Regions from separate parts of the Homo sapiens genome. Here all the other regions are linked to region 2. Evidence: fine-mapped expression QTL. A gene starts in region 2. Each other region holds a variant in brackets. All regions are shown on one strand. Distances are from middle to middle. Region 1 overlaps TNPO1-DT (TNPO1 divergent transcript). Region 2 holds the start of TMEM171 (transmembrane protein 171). Region 3 has its middle 15 kb from the start of TMEM174.

Region 1 (8,181 bases), 460 kb after region 2:
GGATACCTCATAGGGCTGTCACAAATATTAGATGCACCTATAAATAAATTACATCAGTGTCCAGTATGTGGCAAACAATAATTATTGTTTTTAATAATCACCATCATATAGCTTCAGTGTTCTCAGCCTGATTGGTGCAGTTATTACTAACTCTCTACCAGATTCTCCAACTCATTGCAATACACACTAGGTCAGGGCCCTTCGTGGTCTTAGCAGATTTAAATATTTTGATACTCACCCAGGAGGGTGCCTTTGTCTTTTGCTTAGAGAAGTAACGTTCCGCTCTGTTTTGGGGCTCACTTTTCCCTTTGGTTGTGGGAGAAGCAGCAGGGTTCATTCTGTTTACTAAAGAGCCAGCTTATCCCCCCAGCCTAGTCCATTCTTTTTTTTTTTTTTTTTTTTTGAGATGGAGTCTTGCTCTGTCGCCCAAGCTGGAGTGCAGTGGCGCGATCTGGGCTCACTGCAAGCTCCACCTCCAGGGTTCATGCCATTCTCCTGCCTCAGTCTCCCGAGTAGCTGGGATAGCTGGGACTATAGGCACCCGCCACCACGCCCGGCTAATTTTTTGTATTTTTAGTAGAGACAGGGTTTCACCATGTTAGCCAGGATGGTCTCGATCTCCTGACCTTGTGATCCACCCGCCTCAGCCTCCAAAGTGCTGGGATTACAGGCATGAGCCACCGCACCCGGCCTCCCAGCCTAATCCATTCTTTATGACAGGATGCAGTGGCCCCTCTTAGAGGCAACTTGCTGTCCAGGAGCCTCAGCTACTCTCTCACTCCAGACAAGCTGGAAAAGGAGCAGGGATTCTTGCAGAAAGGTTTTCTGTGGCCACTGGTTCTTAGGTGGGAGGTCAGAGCTCTCAGAGCTGTTGTTACCAAAGAGGGCTTTGCAGGCATAACAGCAGCGCATGGTCTCATGCATATGCTCTCTTGAATGATTTTTAAACTGGTCACTTCTGGAATACATCCATATTAATAATGCCTTTTGGTTCTGCAGTGATCATAACCCAAGTCTTCAAGCTCTGGGATGAGACAGGGCCTGGCAGGGCTTCCATAGTTCCTCTATGTAGGTAGATAATGTGCTTTCGCCCTTCTCTGGAGCAGGAAGAAAACAGCAGCAATGGAAAGGTAGGCTGGGGCTGGGAGCAGAAAGCTGCCTTCCAAAACAGCACTGTGCTGTGGCGTCTGTCCCAGGATTCAGCCTTCTGTGTTGCGTTGTGGAGCTCTCGGAGTGGTTTTTGGTTCACTGGCTTGCAAAATGATGGTGGCCACCACCAGCTCGGGGGCTGCTAGCAGAACACAGCCCAAGGCTTGAGACTAGAGAATGACACTTAGTGCAAATGAACAAAAAGGCAGAAATGGCTAAATCTCTAGGGCAGTCTGTTAGTAGCTCTCACCTGGCCCTCACCTAACCTGCCTGGGAGAACACCCAGAGCTCCTAAGCAAGGTACAGTTCTGCCCTGCCATGGGATTAGACTTCTTGATTTGAATCCCAGCTTCACCACTTGTGAGATGCTGGGTAAAATGCTTCACCTCTTTTAGCCACAGTCCGATTGTCATACAATGGAGATGCTAATAGTACCACACTCATCATAATGAGGATGAGAATGGACACTTTACGTAGAAGCTGAGCAGAGGCCTGGCCCACAGCAACTGCTCAGGGAATGTCAGCCACGGTGGCATTGATATTACTCCATAAGGGATCTGCGCACTTACCTCACCCTGTCTCCCATGTTGTACACTTCTTGAGTGAAGAGGTGATGTTTCTCTTCCTGTATGGGGCAGTGCAATGAGAAGGGAGCACGCAGACCCTGGAGTCGGCCAGTCTGCACCCGACCTCTGCTGCCTGACAGCTTTTAACTTTGGGCGCATTCCTTCACCTCCTCGTGCTTCAGATTCCTTTCTGTGAATGGGAGAACAATAGGATCTGCCTTCTAGGGGTGTTGTGAGGATCAACGAACTCATCCACATGAAGCCCTTCCACTCAGCACTGGGTGAGTGCCCAGAAAACACTAGCAATGATGGCTCCATGTCCAGGGAGGACCTGGCTCTCTGCCTCTCATCAATTTGGTACTCAACAAATGCCTCTGTGCTGGGTTGGACCCAACATGCTGGACCTGCCTCTTGTGGTTCCTTGCTGTTCCCCACTTTTCCAAAGTTCCATTGAAAGTCTCTGAATGTATAACCCAAGAGCAACAACAGAAATATGTTGGAGGTACCAACTGGCCCTGTTTGACAGGTTCTGAGTGGTTTCTTGGGATGCAGGACTTTTCCGTGCTAAAGCCAGGACAGTCTTGGGCAAACCAGGATGGTCAGTCACTCTACTATTGCTCACAACTTCCATCCCAGGGCTGGTGCTAAGGCGTTTGCTCCTAGAGGCAACTGTCCTGGAGTGGGTGGCAATTTTGGTGATGGCTTTTCCCTCTGCTTTTTAATTAATGCTGCCTCTCTCTCCAATGCTACTAAAATCTGCAGCCTGCAACCTGACACTCTACCCTCAACAATGAATGCTGGGGTGGCTTCCAAGGGAGTAGAATATGTTGGCCAGGGAAGGTGGAAAATATCTTGAGCAGCTCACAGTTATTTCATCAAAGTCTGTTTCCAGGCAATCACACCAATTTCTTGAGAGGTTGGTGCCAATGGGAACTCGGGGCCCATGCAGCACAGACTGGGGGTTGATATACCTGATTCTAATAATCACTTTCTTCTCTGAGCTACGTGACTTTGGACAAGATTCTTAACTTCTGTGGGCATCTAGTTTTCTCATCTGTAAAAAAGGAAGGACATTAGATAATCCATCTAGGACCATTCCCTCATGCTCATCAAGGCAGAGGCATTGGCTATGCTGGCCTGGGTCTGTGGAGGGCAGTGGGAAGAGGATGTCTCACCCTGGGCATGTTATTAAGCCCTTTTAGCCTCATGTATCAAATGAGGATAATTACAGTACCCTGTATTGTTGCTAGAATAATTCTTTAAAGGCTAAGTATCTGGATTCAAGAGACTGGTTTTCATGTGAGCCTGTAAAATCAATCCTTTATTCTATATCCATACCTCATTCTTTAGTTCAATCATTAAATAAATATTTACTCAGCTCTTACTGTGTGCCAGGTACTGAGCTAGGTCCTAGGGACACAATAATGAATAAATTAGCAGGTCGTTTCTTTTCTTCCTCCTCCTCCTTTTTTTCTTCTTTTTTGTAAACAACAATTTATTAAGAACTTACGGTTGCAAAAATTTTAGGTCTCTAACCAGTATAATCCTTCCTTTCCTTTTTAGTACGGAATCCCTGTATTCTAGGATTTGGCAAGCTGTCCACTGAAACATTATTTTTCCCAGCCTTCTTTGCAGAGGTGTGTATGTGTCATGGGATGAGGGCGGTGGGTGGGCAGAGTAATATGTAACTGGAAGTCACTGAGTGGGGCTTACAGGGAAAGCTTTTTAAAGGAGGATGACTCAGTCAGCAGGTCCCACTGCCTTTCCTTGTGTCTCCCTTGTCTGTTCCTAGAACACTCAAGTGAGAGCTTGAGCTCCAGCAGTCAT[C/T]CTATAAGCCTGAGGACAAGGGCCACAGCCTAGGGATGGTGAAGCCTGGAGCTGGAAAGAGCCTAGGTGCCTGATGGTGCTTTGGAGTCATCATACCTGCACTGCTCTTATTTTATAAGGGGAAAAAATCCTTGCTTTATTTAAGCCAATATTTAAGTCTCTGTTACTAGTAGCTGAATACAATTTCCAGTTGATTTATCTAATATGTATGGAGCAAAATGCGGAGACATATTTAATTGTTTTTCCCTAAACATCAAGAAGTGAAGGCTATAGAAATCTAACACATAAGAACTTAATGTTCAAACTCAAGACATTCATTAATCTTTCTCAATACCTACCAAGGGAAGCTGATGAAACTAGCCTTTTCCTCATATGCTTACTGTAAAAGAGGTAAATTTGAAATACCTTTAAATCCCGGTTTCTCTAAGGTTTGACACCATGGAATAAAATTCACACAATTAAGTGTTTTATTTCAGCTTTTTCTGGGCTTAAGATGATATGCCCAATTCATCTTTTTTTATTAGTAGAGTGCTCACAAATTCTCAAAACCTTTATGAGAAATCCATGTGGTTTTATTCAATCTGCAACCCTAATATGGTTGTATTTTTAATAATGCTAATGGAATTAAAATTTTAAAATTCACCTGGCACATATTTTCACTCACTCCAAGAAATTATAAAAATAGCTGGCATTCACTGAGTACTTACTCTTTGCCAGCCTCTCTGATAAATACTTAACAAGCAAAATATCATTTAATCAGCTCAACACTCCTATGAGGTAGGTGTTATTATTATTGCCATTTTGTAGGTGGGGAAACTGAGGCAAAGGGTGTTTAAATGGTCTGCCCAAAGTCACACAGCTAAGAAGCAGTGATGGGATATGAAGTCAAACAGTCTTAAAAGCAAGCTATCCTGTTGCAAAATAGGTAAGTGGCTTTGAACAAATTATTTTACTGTTTAAAAAGAAAACTTGTACAGTTTTCATATGACTATGTGTCAAAAAGAAGGTATATTTCAAGAAACTTTATGTAAATATGCCCAAGGGCACATTGAATCTGTCCACGATCTTGGCCAATGTCTAGGAAGACCTTTGTCTTAAGGGATGGTAAAATAGATGCCTCTTGATTTGAAGACAACCAATAACATGCAATATTTGTGCTTTGGCATCCTTATTTAGAACATCTGCATTTTTCTAACCATGCAGTTAAGTAGGAAGGTGGGGAAGATATTCAGTATTGAATGCCTGATAAGTCACCAGGTACTTAACGGAATGATAACCAGGTAGCACCTGCCCGTCAGCCCTGTAGGGAGCTAACTACTATTGCCTCTTTAACAGATGAGAGAAGCAAGGCCCAGAGAAATCAAGTGATTACCAAATACTGATGGCCAGGCTCAGGCTCAGGAGGCTCAGATTCAGTTGGTTTGAGATGAGGCCCAGGCATCACTAATTTTAGCAACACCGTTGGTTATTCTATTTTGCAGCCAAGGTTGAGAACCACAACTCTGTACTCCTCAGAGGTAACAAGTGATAACACTAGACCACATACTTGAGCCTTTGGTCAGCAGTTACAAGCGTTTACACTCTCTGGCCTGTGGATCCCTTGGACTCTGTTGCTGTGACCTGGTGCTTGCGCTCTGGTGGCTCCTCCTGAAATGGATTCCTCACCCACAGTACTGGCCAGAATTCTTTGTGCTGATTTTCATTGCCTCACTCTGGTAGAAGAGAACGAAACTCCCAGAGTGTGTGTGAGGTTGGGTTCCCTAGGAACCAGACTCTGCGATGGAGACCAGTGTGCAGGCAGCTTACAGGAGCGAAGGCGGCGGGACTGGGCAGAGGGAAGAGGTGAACTGCCTTGTGGGTGCTGATTCCGTAGGAGCTTGGGAGTCGGAGAGACTCTTCAGGGTTGTGCCACTTGGCAGCAAAAGGGCTGGCCATTGACCAGTCTTTGGATATGGGTCCACCTCCCTCTACTCAGGAGCCTGTGATTCAGAGAAGGGCAATTCCTGTAGAAGGACTCAGCTGGGAGCTGGGAGCTTCTAATACTCCCAGCAGCTGGCCAAATGATTGTTTCAGTCTTGAAGAGGTACTGGGGGGCCCAGTGGAAGGAAACAAAAGGGCCCACCACAGCACTCACTACACAACAAAAAGGAGAATAGGAGAGAAACTCTGTCTGTCTGTGGCTTTGCTGTCACTTTGTTGTTGGCTTCACCACAAGACAGCTGTGAGCATTTACCTCTCTGGGTGCGTCCTGCAGGGGCAGTTCCTTTCTCCAAGCCATGTCTCATATTTTTGCAGTGGAGTATCTCTCTGAATGATACAGATCATCCCAATGAGAGTGAACCTGGAATGAAAACTGGTATAATAGTGTGGTACTAGGCATGAGTCTTACCTTCGAACAAGGTCCTTGGAACCTGGGGTAAGGTGATGTTGGACTCTAGTAGTGCTGTAGGAATCACACCTCTTTTATAGTGAGCCTCCTCTTGTCCTGGAGGGAGACATGACCTCATCCCTCAAGGCTGCTCACTGCAAATGCAATCTTGGGAAATGGCCCAAGTAAAGAGTTGTCAGGGCCTTGCATTCTTGGTGTATCCAGCAAGCTGAACATGAGAGATCCATGGAGGAGAGCAGGAGAGGGCGTTCCGGGAGAAGGAACAGCATATGCAAACTTTTCTAAAGTATTTTCTGTGGAAGCTTGCCTCCTGAAATGTTATAGAGGCTATTGAAAAAAAAAAGAGTTTCAAGGTCAAATACATTACTTATTTAAAAAGGTTGGCAAGATTTTTGTTTGTTTATTTATAACTGATGGGTTTCTGAGAGCCTTTAATACACTAATGAGCATTGTGAATATTCAAAAAGAGGGAACAATATGTAACATTTCCCTTTTTTTCTGGATCTTGGAGCCATTTTTGGTGTAGCACACTGAATGCTATATTGCATTCTAATGGCCGCAGATACTAGGATAAGGTCCCTGTTGGAGTTTTAGGAAGGTCAATAATGCCGCTCAGATTGGAATCCACTGAGAGATAGATCTAGATCAGTTGCATGCAGATAGATATATCACATTTGTTATTGCCAATGCTATGTAAGGAATGTGGCCTAGGTGGTTCAGTAATTCTAATATTCTACCCAGATGTAGGCAGACCTGTTTACCCAGCTCCCAGCTGTGCTGGAAAACCACAGGCCTCCCCACCTTGGAGGAGCAGGTAATGTGTGCTACCTACACGCTAGTAGGCTCCAGGGAACAAGAGAGAGGAGGGAAGGACTCAAATGTTCACAGCAGATTATTCTTCCATGTTCATCAACCAGGTTAGTCAGGCCAGGAGCACTACTCTGATGGACACCCCTCAATAGACATGAAGCCATGAAGACTGGGGAGTAAGTGTTCCTCCCTAACACCCCGTCAAGATTGTATGATGTGTCCAGGTCAGTGTTTTGATGCTAAGCCAGGCAATACACCAAGGGTGCTGAGAAACAGGCTTATCACCCTAACAGAGCTGACAGAGGGACACAATTATCCTCCCAGAGTTAGGGCACTTTACAAGTTTCTCACTGCAGTTGGGGCATTGGGGAGAGAACACGAGGAAGGGATGGAGATTCCTCAGAGTGCCCCCTCAGAGACTGAGTGAGTGACTGTCCTCTATTTTTAGGAAAGGAACCTGCACACTGAAGGTAGAGTGAGTGAAATGAGCGCTGACGCTGATTCTGAGACTGTTGTACCAGACACTGTTAGTGTTCCATCCATGTCTCTTCAGCTGTCCTATTGCAAGCACTGCCCCTCTCTGCCTGAAGGTTTCCTCTTAGTCAAAAGTCTTCCAAGCTGGGAGTTAATGCTCCTTGGAGTAGTCCTTAGCCAATGCTAGATGAAACTTAGAGGTTCAAAACCCCACTTCCTTGCACCTTGGGTGGGATGACTCTAAGCCATGTTCTATAAAGTCTCCAGAAATCCCTGGTGGGATTGAGCCCTGCTCACCCATAGTGGTAACCTGCTTGATGACACATAATTTATTTGCTTCCTTCCCATACCCATCTCACATCTCAAATAAATGACTTTCACTCAAATCCTTGTCTCAGGATCAGCTTCTGGGTAACCCAAACTAAGACTCATGTTATCCACAACATCCATCCATTCATCCTTCCATCCATCCATCTATCCATCCATCCATCCATCCATCCATCCATCCATGCATTCATCCATGCATCCATGCTTTCATCCATCCATCCATGCATCCATGCACCCATTCATGCCTCCCTCTATGCATCCATCTATCTGCTCATCCATCCTACCAAGCTATCATATGCCAGGCAACATATGAGGTTCTCAGAATAAGGGATAATAAATCACAGCCTTTGAACTAAAGTTGCTCAACTGAATTGCTTTATATTCCCCATATCACCAGGCAGAGATACTCAATACACCAGATACCAAAGGGGCATTGGAAATTCTGAATAATCTTCTTTTCAAAGGCTTGAAGAGGGTTGTCAAGCTGAGCCATCCCCGCTGGGGCAAACAGTGCCTGGCACATGGTGGATGTTCAAGAAATGTTCACCAAATGAGTGTTCAAATAGGCAGAGTGCACAGATGGATTCATTGTAAAGTAGGTCAGCTTTCTCTGGAATCCCTTGCTTTCTGAATCCTTGC
Region 2 (8,181 bases):
CATTCCACGGGAGAAAGGTGCTGTCATATTCCATCTTGGTTCATCCCGCTGCTTCCAAGCTTTGCCTCAGCCCTGCAGCCACGGATGATGTCACAAAAAAAGAAGGACAACACAGAGACAGTGCAGAGGCCCCTCAAAACACCTGGAGACTGCTGGACTCAGACAGATCCAGAATCCTAGAATGTTAGTGCTGCAGGAATCTTAGAGAGGCACTGCTCATTTTATAGAGACATAAACCAAGGCAGGAGAGGTTAAGGACTTACAAGGACAGCCAGCTAGTGACAGCCTGGGAGGAGAAACCAAGTGTCCCACAACTAAAATGCTATGTGGTTTTGGTGTGAGAATAACAGGGGTAACAGGGTCACTTAGTGAGTCCCTAAGGTGGCAGAAGGCTCCAAGGCTGTCCTCATGGTTCTTCTCACTTTCCTCTTAATTTGCTCTGTGACCTCAGTCAAGGTCACTACTTAATATCCCAATGCTTTGCAAAGTAGGAAAGAGTTGCTGGGGGGGAAAAGATGTATACAAGGTTCCTACGGGGCTTCCCACAGCAGCACCATTGTGTATGTACACATGATGGGGGTGTGTGCGTGTGCACACACATGTGTGAGAGATGGAAGAATTGAGAAAGAGAATCCAGACGAGAACCAAGAGCAGCTGGTGAAACCCTGCTGCAAAGCCACTGTGATAGAAGCAAGAACGCAAATAACAGCAACCCACCTACAGTGACCTGGACAGGCTCCATAATCTGGATCTGTCCCTCTTCTCTCTCAGAGGCATCCTGGCCAGCATTCAGCGTGTTTCTCTTCTTAACATGGGCAACCACGAAGAAACACAATCCCACAAGCACAATCAAGGGCCCCATGATCTGCAGAGAAAGGAACCCACACATCCGGGGCTCTGAGTCGCCAGTGTCTGTCTCGTTTAGCGGTTCCTGCGCCCAGTTGGAGCCACATCCAGGGACCCAAATGCCCAGGACGCTGATGAGCATGCCGCTTGTCAAGAACAGAAACCCAAAGATAAGGCACTGGGCAAACTGGCGGCTCTCTCCACAGATGAAGGCTCGGTCGGGGTCCATCTGCTGACCTCTCTGCAGCCCTGCACGGAGCTGAAGTTGCGCCCGGGAGCGGGCCAGGATCACAGCCCCAAGCCCAACCACGGCACATGCAGGCCCCGCCACCTTGAGCACCATGGGGCAGTCTGGGAGGGGCTTATATTGGCATGCCTGGAACCCAAAGATGGAGAGCAGGACTCCCACACACAACAAGACGGCGCCGAAGACAAAGAAGCAGAAGATGAGTTTGCTGACGTGTCTGTCCTGCTGGTCCCCATCTGGCTCAGCAGCAGCTGCAGGAGACATGTCCAGGAGAGGCCCCTTCCCGGAGGCAGGGTGGGATGTGTTTTCTTCCCTCCAAGATTTCAGCAGCTCTGCAAACACAACCAAACACCAAATTAACGTGGGCACAGGTGTTCCAGAACCACCCTGGTTTTTTGCTGATCATTTCTGAAATCACACCACAATGAGGCCTTGGGGGTAGAACTTTATACAACTGATAAGCTGTAGAACAATGAGTTGGTTTATGAGTCAGATAAACTAGCATTCAGAAACTCCTAAATATGTAATTTTACAAGATATTCAAAACAGGAAATTAAATTACTACACATCTAAGGGTATCTTTTTTAAAAACTGAAAGAACAAAAGTAGCTGGGTGTGGCATTTCCTTTTCTGAGTCTTACAAACTCATTTCCCTGGGGAAAAAAGCACTGGTGAATGAGGGAAGAACCACAGGGATTCTTTCTGATTGCAAATGCCCCACTTTTCATCATAGCTGCTCTCAGCATTTTCAAGTCAGTTCAGTAACTAACTTTCCATTTCCTGTTTTAGACTACAGCAGCTTTCCATTTCATGTTTTATTCTAAGGCTACATCTACAAAAGACCCAATTTCAGCAATTTCAATAGAATAAGAAGTCTGTTCAGGAACACAGTGGGTTTGGTGGACTTTTAAGTTGATTCTATCAAAATGTGGTTCTTGAGGCCAGGCGTGGTGGCTTGCGCCTGTAATCCCAGCACTTTGGGAGGCAGAGGCAGGCAGATTGCTTGAGCTCAGGAGTTCGAGACCAGCCTGGGTGACATAGCAAAACCCCATCTCTGCTAAAAATACAAACTTTAGCCAGGCATGGTGCCTGTGGTCCCAGCTACTTGGTAGGCTGAGGTGGGAGGATTGCTTGAGCCCAGGAGCTGGAGGTTGCAGTGAGCCAAGATCACGCCACTACTCTCCAGCCTGGGCAACAGAGTGAGACCCTGCCAAAAACAAAACAAAACAAAACAAAATGGTTCTTGGGTTCTCAACAAGCACAGACTGGTGACCCAGTTGCTTGGATCTGGGATGACCCTGGAAAGTGTTGCACAGCAGGTCAACAGGAGCTCAATTTTCAGAGTGGACAGGTACCCAAAGGCTGGTGTGGCCTCTCACTCACCCTCCTCCATGGTGTCACCTACTTCCACAAAGAGGTTGAGACTCAGTTAAAAAACAAGCAGCCAATAAAACTGCTAGTTATAAAGCACAAAATGGGTGGAAGGGGGGAACTTGGCTTTGAAAGAATAGTATAAGTGGAATCAAGTGAGAAAGCACCTTCCAGAAAATCACCCAAGCCCTGTACTTCAGGGGTATAATATATTAAATATGCCAAGTGGTTGTTAAAGAGTTGTCTAGCTTACACAGAGCTGACCTAATTATCTCGTTATCTTATTTTACTCCAATGAATGGGATATTTTACCAGGACCCCGTAAGTCAGGTCCTGCAATTGCAAAGACAATCCAAAATCGTGAAGACTATTTTCACCTGCCCAAGGAAAGAAAACTTTTAAAATATTTTGTGCCGCTCACATCCATGGTCCCATGAAGGAACTCAAGACTGAGGCCCTAAGCCCAAGATGATCTTGACAAACCAAAATCACACTGAGGGAAGGTCAGTTTAGGTAAAGAAAGCAAACAGGCAATCTTACACTGGGAAAAACTTTTCCAGGAAAAAGTATGATAGAATCAGAAGGAAGTTGGAGAAAAAAAGGAAATATAGGAGGGAAAAAAGCTTTCATTTCAAACTTGGAAAAACTTGATATACAGATGCAGTTAAGCTGAGACAAAGCATTGCACTAATTTTTTAATCTTCCCATTTTTTATTAAGTCAGTAACATCCTGCAGTGAATAAGAATTTCATATTGAGTATACAGTAGTCCTCATTTATCCTACAGGGAGTACATTCCAAAACTCTCAGTGGAATGAAACGATGGAGAGTCCTGAAACCTATATATATTGGTTTTTTGTTATTGTTGTTGTTTTAATTTTTTTCCTGAATCATGCAATCTCTTTTGCGGTTTCGGAGACAAGAAAGAGAAGGGTGATTCTCGGCTGCAAAGTCCTATCAGGAATTCATTTATTCCCAGTATAGTCAACTTTGCAGTGAGTCACAAGGCTTCAACTGTCTTAAGGCAAATTCCCAAACACCAGTAAATAGAAGCCCAAAACTGAATCTGTAGTTTCTTGTCCGTGGACTAGTGGACGGAGCACCTGGCTGAGTGTTCACCTCTGATCCATAATAGTGTGGAAATACTCTCTCTCTCTCCTTCTCCCACAGATGCACTCACAAACGGATACAAAGACACCCACATTCACTCGCAATGAAACCTTTTCCAAACACCACCCTACACTTAAACTCCCCAAAGCCAAACTCCCCTCTCCAACACTCCTATTGGTTTTCCAAAAGACATTTCCAAAATTCACAGCACCTCTCCACGTCCAAAGCTATGGTGCGTTTGGGGAACGAAACGAGAGGCAAATGCCTTCTGTGCGAAATCGGTTTGCGGCTTTTAGGGAGCCCGAGCGCAAGCAACAGCCGGAGGGGCTCGCAGGGACGCAGGTTGGGCTCGGATACCCAGCGCCTCCGCGCTGCCGCGGCTCCCCGCGCCCAGCCTGGCCGCACAGCTCAGCGCCCGACCCGCCGCCGCCGGCGCAGGCGCGCGGGCCGGGGCAGCTTACCTGAAGCTGGGTCCGGCGCCTGGCTGACCGCGCTGCTGTGGGCACTGGCTGGGCGCGGCGTCCGCCTCCGCACGCGGCCTCGGCTGCGCCGGCCGCCCTGCACCCTACCCACCGCGCGTCCTGGTGCGGAGGGCGGACCCGGCAGTATTTAGAGAAGGAGGCGGTGCTGCGCGGGCGCGGCGGCCCGGGGAGGGCAGGGCAGGGCAGTGCAGGAGCGACCGGTGGGAGCTGGCCGCCACTGGGGGCCCGGGGCGCGCCCGCGAGGGAATGGAGAGCCAGGGGCGGCTTCGGAACCCAGGGCTGGCGGGTTTGGCAGCCTCCGCGCTCGTGGCCGTGCGCGCGAGGAATCTGGGAGAAATGGGCACCTTCCACGGCTGCCTGGCCCGCACACCTGGCGGGGCCGGCGAGTTGAGATGCCCCCGCCGGCTGGCGGAACTGTGCGCCCCGCCCGCCGAGGCCCGCTCCCCCTCGAGGCCTGAGGCCCAGTTCTATAGGGGCGCGAGAGAGCGGCGGCGTGGGGGGCGCGGAGGAAGCGCCGGCCCCCGCCTCCACCGCCTCCTTCGTGGTTGCGGCCCAGGCCGAACAGGGTACCGTGCCCCGGCCGCCTTGGCCTTGGCCACCGCGAGGTCCGGGGCGACTACACCCAGCAGCCCTGTGGCCCTCCTACTGCTCTGGAGACCTGGAGTGGGGTTACAGAGGGAAGCGACTCGCTGCGAGCTCCCCATCGAATATGGAGCCACCAGGTCACGGGACGACGTGCGCTCTACAGAATGTGAGACAAGGGCCCTCCACACCCAGCCATTCAGGCCTGAGGTCCTGGCTCCGAGACTGAGGCCGAGACGCGGCAAGCCCCGCGCCGGACCAGCTCTGCCCCTCCCGCACCCACGTGTCTGCGCACAGCCCTCCTTTGCGATAGAACCCCCTTCCTGGTTCTCCACCACTAATGATCTGCCGGAATTAAACTGGTAACTTTCCCTGCCCTTGAACCGGGAGTTTCGGGATGAGTTTGCCAATCCCTGTGCTATTTGTAACCAGCCCCGTGACACGTGATACGGATCCAACTGTGCTAGTTTCCACACCAGGGGTCAGGGCACGGTGGAAGGTGAGTCAAGGGTTCTCTGCCCAAGCGCAGAGGTGCCCTGAGCCACGGGGACTTCCCAGCCCTGCCTTCTCTTCTCAGCTTCCTGTCTGCCTTGCCTGAAACCCTATCTAGAGTTAAGGCCAATGGATGAAACTTTTCAATGTGCAAGCAAGCACTTTACCTACCTGATACAACAAGAGATTCCTGGTCATGCTCACTGAAGGTAAAGTATGAAGCAGGCTTAGCTAATCATCAGAGGTGAGAAGAGACTTAAAGAACCAGTCAGAGAGGTAAAGAGGGGAGGGGGTTACCTGGGCTTTAGGGTTCACCAGGGAGGCAGAACGGACAAGTTCTTGCCATTGGAATTTGGTGGGGCACTTGCCTGGGTGGCCAAAGGTGGACTTTTTCATAGCCAGGGTGCCCGACCTCTGTAAATCCCCGCCATAACTAACAGCCCTGATTACTGTCGAAATGAACAATGCCAACACTCACGACCCCTTGCTTTGTGGTTCTTTGCTACATCTCTCCAGCAGTTCAGAAAAGGTTGGAGGCAGCAGGGGACAGGAGACTGAGAAAAACAGTCATTTGTCAGTTGAGGAAACTGAGGTCCAGGCTGACAGAGGTAAAGTAACCTCTGCAGCTGGTTGACATGCAGAGAAGGCCTGAGCCAGATGCAGATGCGCTGACCATTCAGTGTTTCTCCCGCAGCACACCTGTCACTCAGAGAACACACCATGCTGTGAACCCAGAAAACGCCCTCATGGCCTTGTGATGCCAAGCACGTTTAGATTATTATAACAATACAGGCACTGTGTCCCAAGGACATTGCAGTAATCTATGTTTGGGGTGGAGATATCCTTCCTGGTCCAAGTGTCAAGGTATACCACCTTCTGGAAGGGCACCAAAGCATGTCCAGCGAATGGGCAGATACCCAAGAGTGGATTGTACAACAGCAGGCACTGGCTTTCTAAGAACTCAGGCCCTCATTATAGGATTTGTCCCCTCTGACACAGGCCTGTGAACAACTCTTCATTGTGCAAAAGGGTTTCCTTGTCCTTTCCCTACTCATTCTTCCCTTCCCCCTTATTTGAAACTGAATCTCTGGCCATGTCATGTGCAGGCCTGCAAGGGGCCTGTTGATACAGCTGCCCCTCTGGTGCCACATGACTGCAGGCTCACCACCCATGACAGACTTGAATATCCTGGCACCAAGGACAATCAGATTAGCCTCCACTTGGTATATCTGCTGTTCTCACTGTTTGTGTCTATGAGAGCCTGTTTGACTAAATTAAACTCCTTGGAAATTGATCATCGATTATGTATGAAAGACATACCCACCAGCCTTTGAGGTACTTATCTTTGTAGCCCACCTAGCCTTAGGAGAGAAGCTGCGTGGCCTGGTCACTATCTAGTGGTCTTCCCTGGCCTGTGTGGTAGTGAAAAAGATAAAAGCCAGACCGAATCCTTAGAAAAACAGCATCAGAACAAGATTAAAAACCTCGAATTCAGTGACTGTAGAAGCATAAAGCAGAGGCATGTGTTCATGTATTTAGCCAGCACAGATTTACCAACTACCAATAAAACACGGAACTTGTATTTTATTGAGGAGAAAGGCAATAAAATATGTAAGTTATACAGAGAATTAGAAAGTGATTGAGTGCCAGGGAGAACAATAAATCACAGATGGGGACTGGGGAGCACCCCATTTTAAATAGGGGAGTTAAGGAAGGCATCTCTGAGAAGGTGAGATTGCAGCAAAAACTTGAAGGGAATGAGGAAGCAAGTGTATCAATGATCTATTATTGCATAACAACTTACCCCAAAACTTTGAAGTTTGAAACAGCAAAAATGTATTCTCAGGGTTTCTGATCAGGGTCAGAAACTGCAAGTGGCTTAGCTGGGTACTTCTGGCTGAGCCTCTCAGAGGCTGCAGTCTAGCAGTTGGCCAGGGCTGTGGTCATCTGAAGGCTGGACTGGGGCTGGAGGATCTGCTGCCAAGGTGGCACATTCACAGGGCTATTGGCAGGAGGCCTCAGTTCCTCACTATGTGGATTTCTCCACCCAGCCTCCCCTCACGTGAGTGATCCAAGGGAGAGCAAACAAAGGGGAAGCTGTGGTGCCTTTTCTGACGAGGCTCTGCACTTCCATACCATCACTTCTCTTTATTCTGGTCCTTAGAATTGAGTCACAAAGTCAAGGGGAATGGGATTAGGTGCCACCTCTTGTAGGGAAGAGTAAGAATTTGTAAGCATAGTTCGTGATTTTTTGTGGGAAGTAGGGAAGAGTGCTTCAGGCAGAAGTAACCACAGGTGCAAAGGCCCTGAGGTAGGAACACACATATTAGCATATTCAAAGGAGAGCAAGAGGCCAGGGTGGCTGCAGTTGGTGAGCAAGGGGGAGAGTAGGAGAGGAGGTCAGAGAGGAAAGGCATGTGCAGGGCCAAGGGCACCAGGTTGTGCAGGGCCTTTAAGTAGGTGGGAAGCCTTTGAATGGTTTTTGAGCTGATGTGATGAGCTTTGACAGTGATGTGATCTGATTTCTTTTAAAAAAGAAATTGGTGGCTGTTGCAGTAAGAATAGCCCAAGGAGGAGCCAGGATGGATGGGAAGAGGCCAGTTAGGAGGCTGTGGTAACAACCCAGGAGTTATGTCTGTAGCTTGTGTATGAAGGTGATGAAAGGGATGAGACTTTGGATATATCTTGAAGATAGAGTCAATGGGATTTTCCATGAACCACATGTGGGTTTTGATTCCAAGGTTTTGGATCTGAGCAAGTGGAAGAATGGTTCTGGCATGAGCAAGATGGGGAATCCTAAGAGTGGGACAAGTTTGAGAGGAGGAGCTTCAGAGTCCATTTGGGGACATGTTAATTTTGTCCATTAGACATCCGAGTAGAGAAGCTGAGTAGGCAATTGAATATGGAGGCTTGGAGTTCAGGAATTCGGAAGGAATACTTTCCTGTGGTCTGTGAGTGACATTACAAAATTGAGGAGGCTGGGCTCCCTCTCTGGAAGAGTAACAATTAGTCCTTTGGAGGGTTCTAAACACACAAAGCAAGGGAGGGGCTG
Region 3 (8,181 bases), 37 kb before region 2:
TAAACCATTTTTAAAACTTTATGAATGCATTGTTTTGGCAAGTCACTGGGAAAACAGCTTTAAATCTGAGTGGGGAAGAGTATAACTTGACACAACCTCTTTTTGGGGGGCTTGGCAATATTTACTAAAATTCAAAATGTACGTACAACAGAATTAAAGAAGCTACAAACATCTTCTAGGAATGTAACCTACATACTTACAATAGACACCTTACAAAAGGATACTTTAGCAGAATAGACAATGAATCACTATCTGTACTAACAAAGTACAGGGATGGGGAACCCTACATGTCCATCAGTAGTGGACTGGCTAAATAACTTATGGTGGTAAAATATAAGGTTCTCTTCCACTGTTAAAGAGCAAGTCAGCTGTACATACACAGGTATGGAATAATCTCTAAGATGTGTTATTGGTTGAAAAAGAAAGCAGAGTGAGTACTGTAGTGTGCTTATTATGCCATTATTTGCAAGGGGAAAGACATACACATCATTGAATGTCTGTGCATAAAATGTCATTGAAAGAATATGAAATAAATTTGACAGAAGAACTGAGAGGGTGTTCCAGTTATCTATTGCTATATAACAATCCACTCCCAATTTTGTGGCTTAAAACAGTTATGTGGCTTGGCTGAGTTTTGTCAGGCAGTCAGCAAGGGCTGCCAGAACCTAGAAGCTCACCTGAGTGGGACATCAAGATGGTTCACTCATGTGACTGACAGCTGATGCTAGGAGCTTCGCTGGCTCATCAACCAGAGCACTCACCTGTGTCTTTCCATGTGGTTTCTCCCGGCCAGGGGACTGGGTTTCAAGAGGAAGTGTCTTAGGAGCAAGTACTCCTGGGGTCCCAGGTGGAAGCTGTGAGGCGTCTTATGACCTGGCTTTGGCAGTCCCAGAATATCACTCTCATTTCATTCTATTGCTCAAGCAAGTCACTAAACCAACCCAGATACAAAGGGAAGGGAATTCGATTCTTCCTTTCTATAGTTGGAATGTCAAGGTCACATTGCAGAAGAACACTTGGGAGAGGAAATATTACCATCTTTCTCTTTGGAAAATACAATCTTCTGCAGAGGGAGATTTACTTTTCACTGTTCAGTCTGTGATACTGCTTGAATTTTCGTCCATGTGAACATCCAAATATAGTCCAAGATTTTAGATCAACCATGTTTATATACCCATTCACTTGTGGCTGGTTAGTAACCTCATCCTTCTTTACTGGCAAGTTTTCAGTGAGTCCTCAGGTGGTAACACTCTGTCACAATCAACAATAATGGCAGGTTCTGAATTTTTCTGAGTTTCTTACATATTTTCACTGCTTTTCAGACTTAGACATCAAGCTTCCTGTTTTTAACCACCAATCCACATTCCCCGTTAAAAATTGTAATTTTGAAATGATTATAGTTTAAAAAGATGAATAATGAATGACAGTATAACCACAAAAACAGAGTTTTCAGAGGTTATCAGAGACCTGCGGTGGGAAGTGAAACTAAGCGTGGTCATATAGTTCTGAACAAATCGTTTGATTGAACACATTGTGGTTGGAAGTAAATTGCTTTGTGGAAGCTGTGTGTGTGTGATTAAATGTCTTTTTTCAAAAGTTTGGTAGAGTGGCAAACCCATGTTTCAAAGATCTGTCTGCTTGTGCTGTGATCCTGCAGGGTAATCTATTGGCCATATTCACTTGGATCAGACTACAGACAGAACACTACCAGGTTCTCTGATAACAAAAAAGCCCCAAAATATTTCAACAACTTATAGCACATAAAAAGCAAAATAAAACAAAACAAAGCCACAAGCTTGGGTGACATGGAAAAACAGGAACCTGCATGTTTTACTTGCAAATACATGTCTCAAAACCCTTCAAGATTTCCAAAATTCAAAAGAATGTCTTCCTAAACATTTAGGTAAAAATGGCACCATGTGGCCTCCCCTACGCTGGTGCACCACAGGAGGTGGGGGTTCAGGAAAGAGGGGTTGGGGAGAAAAGAGAGAAGCCACAAGAAGGGACCTGGACATTCTTCTCTGCACTGTAGGACCCTGTCAGTGGCCACCACTACCTGGCAATCCTGAGATGATCAACAAAATCAGAAAAGGTCCGGATGACAAAATCAGACTCCAGAGGAAGGTGGTTCATGGGTCCACGTGGATGTGAGAGGAACACAGGGTCAGGATGCATAGTCTGCTGGGAAGCCTTCTGAGAAACCCAGGTGCTAGACCTGTCCTGGTGTCCAGCACAAGGCGGGAACATCCTCCATGATATTCCTCCAGTCTTTAGGGCTAGATCAGTGAAAGTAGGCAGATGTCATGGCAAGGGGTGACTACGGTCAGAAATGCACACCCTGCGCAGCTCTGTACCTTCAGAGGGCCACAGTTGCAGACCTGCAGGGAGTAGCAACGAGGATGGGGTGACCTATGCCACTTGGCCCCACCCCCTCAAGGACATGCGGCAAGAGGATCCTTGCACAGTAAGGACCTGGATGGAGCAGACGCGGAACCTCGACCCTAAGAATAGATTCTCTACTTAAATGAGCATCAGGTGTCTATAAGTCATTTAGGGGGAATATTTGGGGGAAATCTCAATTATAGGAATTATCTACTCACCTGTTATATTTACTTGAATTGTGTTGGACCATGGCAGCCTCAAGGTTATATTCAACTTTTACAATAAAATGACAGGGTGGTTGAATCATGACTATACTATTATTAGCTACAGGATGGATCTTGTTGAAAATCAAAACTGTCCCCTCATTCTTCAGATTTTATTTTATTTCAAGAATAACAAGAGCCTGGGGGTGGTGGTTCACACCTGTGATCCCAATAATTTGGGAGGCTGAAGCAAGTGGATCGCTTGAGCCCAGGAGTTCAAGACCAGCCTGAGGACATGGCAAAACCCCACCTCTACAAAAAAAAATATATAAAAATTAGCCAGGCATGGTGGTGCAGCCTGTAGTCTCAGCTACTTGAGAGGTAAGGTGGAGAATCACTTGAGCCTGAGAGATCGAGGTGTCAATGAGCTATGATCATGCCACCACCCTCCAGCCTGGGTGACAGAGTGAGACCCTATCTCAAAAAAACAAAACAAAACAGTAACAAGAATATTGTAGGTGGCGGTGGCGATCATTGCTGTATGGAGTATGGATTCTGTGTCTTTACACCGTATTCTTGCTTGAACTTTCTGATATCCTGGTGAGAAGCAAGGCCTCTGTTTTACAGATGATTAATCTCAGAACAGGAAAGTAGGCTATTTGATTTAGTGGTAGTGCAGGAGGACAATCTGTTTTCCTAAAGTGTTTTTAAAATTGCTCATCCATGAAGGGCAGGCACTGGCAGGCAAGTGATCTGCCTGTGTTCTCGAGCGAGGCTGGTGTCTGCTGAGGTTGGTTGGGTAGGCAGTTTCCTGGGTGTCCTGATAATCTTTAGATTTTTTTCCCCAGCTGCGATGATTTGAATGTTTGTCTCCTCCAAAACTCATGTTGAGCTTTGATCCCTACTGTTGGAAATTGGCCTGATGGGAAGTGTTTGGGTCATGAGGGGATCCCTGATGAATAGAATAATGCCCTTTTTTGGGGGTGACTTCTCACCCTATTAGTTCCCTGTAAAGCTGGTTGTTAAAAGAGCCTGGTGCCTCCCCACTGTTTTTCTTGCTTCCCCTCCTGCCATGTGATCTCTGCACACATGAGCTCCCCGTCTTCCATCATGAGTGA[G/A]AGCAGCCTGAGGCCCTCACCAGAGGCAGATGCCCAGTCATCAAAATTATAAGCCAAATAAACTTCTCTTTATAAATGACTCAGCCTCATGTATTCCTTTATAGCAGCAGAAAATGCACTCAGACACCAACTGAACTGAAAACTACCTTGATGGGGCTGGAATTTAAGTCACAGCCACTGCCATTTCCAGCAAATGATAAGGTGAGCCTCCCAGAGGCCCAGCTCTTGGTGTGAGAAGCTTCTGGATGGAGTAGGTCTGCAGTGGGCTTGCTTCTGAGCTCAGGAATTTATGTACTTGTATGTTAGTTTCCACTTCAGAATAACCACACACTTAGAGGCTTAAAACTACATTCATTTATTCGTTCACGGTTCTGTAGGTCAGGCATCCCTCTGTATTATCTGGAGGCTCAGGAAATAATCTGTTCCCAAGCTCATTCAGGCTGTTGGCCGAATTTGGTCCTAAGCAACATAAGACTGAGGTTCCAATTCCCTGCCAGAAATTCCTTTCTGCTCCTAGAAGCCCCCCACATTCCTTCTCACTTGGGCCGCTCCATCTTCAAAACAGCAATAGTGCTGCAAGACTAGCCAAGCTCTTGAGCTTCAAGTCTCTCTGATTTCCCCCTTTCTGCCCTACTCTTCTGCCACAACAGCCATGGAAAGTTATCCGGTTTTAAGGAGCCATGTGATTAAATTACACCCACCCAGATACTCCCTTTTTGTGGGTCCACTGTGCCGTATAACATAACACAATCATAGGAACGATGCCACATGTTCTCAGGCTTTGAGGAATAAAGATGTGGGATTTTTTTTTTTTTAGCGGGGAGCATTTTTAGAATTCTGCCTGCCACATTCTGTTTCTGTTGCTGAGACCCAAAGAGAGTTAGTAAAGGACGAATGAGTCTGCTAAGAGTGACCAGGGGACATGTTTGTCCAGGCCTCATCAACATTGCTAAGCACGTTCAAGTAACAACACTGCAGTGGGTCTTGCAGGCCTTCACATGTCCAATTTACTCTACTGCAGCGGTTCTCCAAGTGGGGGCCCAGAACCAGCAGCAGCAGCACCTGGGAACTTGTTAGAAATATATATTTTGGGCCCCACCTCGACCTACAGAATTAGAAACTCTGGAGATGGGGCCAGAGGTCTGTGTTTTAGCCAGTCCCTTGGGTGATTCTGATGCTTGCTCAGGTTTGAAAACTATTTCTCTAAGGTAGGTCCCCAGTTTCCTTTTCTATGGAAGTAAAAGTTGGGGAGGAGTCAGATAGGTAATCTCTAAAATGACTTCCATTTCTAACAACGTATGATTTGTGAATATTACAAAAAAGATTACACTGTAGAGACCAAAGAATGCACATATATGTCAATTGTGTGTGTGTGTGTGTGTGTGTGTGCGCGCGCTTCCATGCATGTCACGGTTAAGAGTACAGGCTTTGGAGTCTTTTCTACAATCAAATTCTGGCTTCTCCAATCACTAGCTATGTAAATGGGCCAGCTGCTTAGCCTCACTGAGCCTCAGTTTCCTCATTTATGAATGATGGGACCTACATCATAAGGTTATCAGGATCAAGTGAGATCATACAGAGAACACATAGCGTAGTAAGTTCAGTGACTTTCGGCTATAATTACTTCATCCTGTTCAGTTTCTGGAAACTTTCTCCTTGAGTGCTTGAGTCTATGGTGGGGGTAAAGCACCCAGGCCCTTGTCAGGAGGCCCTGAAGGCAGCCCCGGGAGGCACTGCCTGGGGACTGAGGATGAGCTGCTCCTAGGCCTGAAGGCAAAAGTGAACCTTCTCTGATTCCTAGAGTCAGCTTAAGTCCTGTCACTGCAAAGGAAGACATCTTGGTAAAGCGTGTGTATATAATCCCACAGCCACCATGATCTCCTCCTCAGAGATCATACAACCCGAGGCAGAAAGCACGCATCTCAACACCAAGTCGGCTGAGATGTGGAGAGCGGGGCTGGAAACCCTCAGGGGCATTTGCAGAGTTTTTATTATATTTGTTATTATTGGTTTTTGTGTTTCATTGTTGTTTTTGTTTGTTTTACATGTTCAAAGGAACAGAAATAGTTAAGGCCTGGAATAGAGTCAACATGTGCCTCTGTAAAGTTGAGGTAGGTCGGGAAGTGTGTCACCGGGGGAACATAAAGCAACCCCCGCCCCTGCCCTGGCTCACAGGCCTCACCAGCGGAGCTGCGAGAGGTCTTTCCAGAGCTTGCTGAGAGGCCTGAGTGGAGATGAAGACCCTGTGAGCCAGAAGTGTGGGAGAGAACAGCCTCCTCGCACAGGCCTCTGTCCTCCAAGGGGAGCTGTGCTTTTCTCAGCCTGCTGGCAGTTGCCTGTGGCACTGAGGCACTGAGGGAGGGAAGGCAGAGACCACCCAGTGTGAATTGCTGCTGCCTGAAATGGAAACTGTTCTCCCAGCCATAGGCAGGCAGAGCCAGGAGGGGCTATTCCACAGCTGCTCCCCACCCGCAGCCCATTCCCAGGCTCCACATGGCTCCCTCAGCCTCAATGCCACCAAGAGAGCTGCTCAACCTGCGAGGCACTAGCCCGTCTGCTAACAACCACAGAACGCTCTGGGAGGGATGCGGCTGGGTCTCCTTTGCCTCCTCTGAGCCACAGAGATTGGCCCCCCGGGGACAGGTCTTCCGATTTGGGTTCAATCTCTGGCTGAGGTCTTAAGCAGTTTTTCTATGCTTGATGATATGTGAGTGAGAGCCTGAGAACTCTTCCTGCCTCCTCTTGGAGAATGTCTGCCAGCTCCACATAGGAGGTAAGCTGTTCCAGGAATCGTGCATGTGAATTCGGCTTCATAGTTTTGGCTTCATAGATGGCTTCATAGTTTCAAGATTAAGGGCCAAAGATGAATTCACAACGGTTCTTGCCACCCAGTACTTCATTTATTCCTCTTTAATGTCCTCTATATATTAATCCATTTAGGTCCTTTCATGCAGACCAAAGTTGTCCAACATTGGAGTAATACTTTCTTGTCCCTTTGGTCCCCTCTAAAAAGCCCACCAATAATTTGATTCAAAGTAGAAGAACTTTGGATAACAGAGCGTTCTGCAATACTAAACAAGGTTCATAAAGTGCCACTCTGGAAGGAGTCTTAAAGACCAACAGCCAGCACCACGGATATATTTTTAAATGGTGCTGAGTAAGAAACGTTAGGAAGCAAATGAGGACTATAACATAATGTAATATATGTAAATTTTAAATAAATACACAAAATAATAATCATATCTTATAGAACTACATACCTATTCAAGGATAAATATCTTTCACATTGATGTAGTGGCCTGTTGGGAAGAAAGGAATTAGTGCTGGGAATGGAGAAGGAGGGAGGGAGAGAGGAAGGGAGGAAGGAGGGAAGGAAGGAAGGAAGGAAGGAAGGAAGGAAGGAAGGAAGGAAAGAAGGAAGGGGAAGGGAGGAAGGGAGAGGAAGGGGAACAGGGAAGAAGGGAGGAGAGGAAAGGGAAGAATTTAATAATGATGATAGCAGATTATGTCTTGAAGAATATGGAGTAACTCTAACATAAGTTAAAAAGGAAGCAAGCCCTAAATTAAACCTTTCATTTTACAGATGGAGAAACTGAGGCTCAGAAAGATGAACTGTTTGATGCTGGGATTTTATTGCTGTTCAGAGGCAGAAACCAGGCATTTTGACTTCCAATTCAATGTGCTTTCTACTGCATCAAACTGCTACACGTATACTTATAATGCCTCACTTCCTTCCCTTCTAATGAGTAATTCATCTAAGTATAGTTTTAACTGGAGAGGTTGATCATTGCTGGCCCAATTCATGGTCCCTCTCCCAGAGAAGCCACCCACCCCTACTGAAAGACTGAGGCCTTGTTGGACACCAGGTGACCCGGATCACCTTCTCTTGGCCGATGGGCCTGAGGTGGGAAACTGATTCAAGGGCAGCCCTTCCAGAGACAGGGTGGGGGTCACCAAGCATCCTGGTTTGCCTTGGACTGAGGGGGGTCCCAGGATGCAAAACTCTCTGTGCTGAAACTAGAAAAGTTCTGAGCCACCTGGGACAAGCTGGTCATCCTGGCAGGGAGGGACTTAGGACCTGTAAGGCCAGCTTCAAAAATAGATTCTCAGTGAGAAACAGGGAATCTAGCAGACCGAGACTGTTGGCTGCAATAGAAGTGCCGTGGTGTAGAAAGAGGGCAAGGGGCACTAAGGAGCTTCCATACGGGTCCTATATAAACAAAACTCAAGAGCAGAAACTTCGAGAAGTGGAGGACACTGGTTGACCAAGAGAGGAGAAAAGGGTCTATCTTTGTTTAAAGACAAGCAGATACCTGCCCGCAAGAGAAGGACTCTGCTGCAGAGAGGATAAAACTCTCGCATTGGCCCTTCATTTCAGAGGCACACGGTGGCAAGATGGGGGTGCAGATCTCCAAGAAGAGGAAGTTTGTCACTGATGGCATCCTCAAAGTGGAACTGAAAAAGTTCTCACTCGAGAG

Evidence for each region. PIP is the estimated chance that this variant, and not a neighbour inherited with it, causes the effect.
Region 1: its variant is fine-mapped to the expression of TMEM171 in whole blood (TOPMed, PIP above 0.99).
Region 3: its variant is fine-mapped to the expression of TMEM171 in pancreatic islets (PISA, PIP 0.95).

The regions. Positions count from the first base shown.
Region 1 is chr5:72,656,853-72,665,033 of GRCh38, reverse strand. The region is part of intron 7 of TNPO1-DT (TNPO1 divergent transcript); the gene reads left to right. Among named protein-coding and RNA genes, the nearest start is that of ZNF366, 150 kb to the right of the region's middle. The variant C/T (reference allele first, on the strand shown) is at 3,543.
Region 2 is chr5:73,116,550-73,124,730 of GRCh38, reverse strand. It overlaps TMEM171 (transmembrane protein 171), which reads right to left and starts at 4,156. Exons shown (of 4, transcript NM_173490.8): 1 at 4,035-4,156; 2 at 718-1,425. The coding sequence starts at 1,357. It overlaps LOC124901001, which reads left to right and starts at 4,240. Exons shown (of 2, transcript XM_047417978.1): 1 at 4,240-8,181. The coding sequence starts at 4,302. The coding sequence ends at 5,003. RefSeq lists an enhancer at 4,766-5,317.
Region 3 is chr5:73,153,654-73,161,834 of GRCh38, reverse strand. It overlaps the pseudogene LOC101060067. Among named protein-coding and RNA genes, the nearest start is that of TMEM174, 15 kb to the left of the region's middle. RefSeq lists enhancers at 5,585-6,085, 6,086-6,586. The variant G/A (reference allele first, on the strand shown) is at 3,704.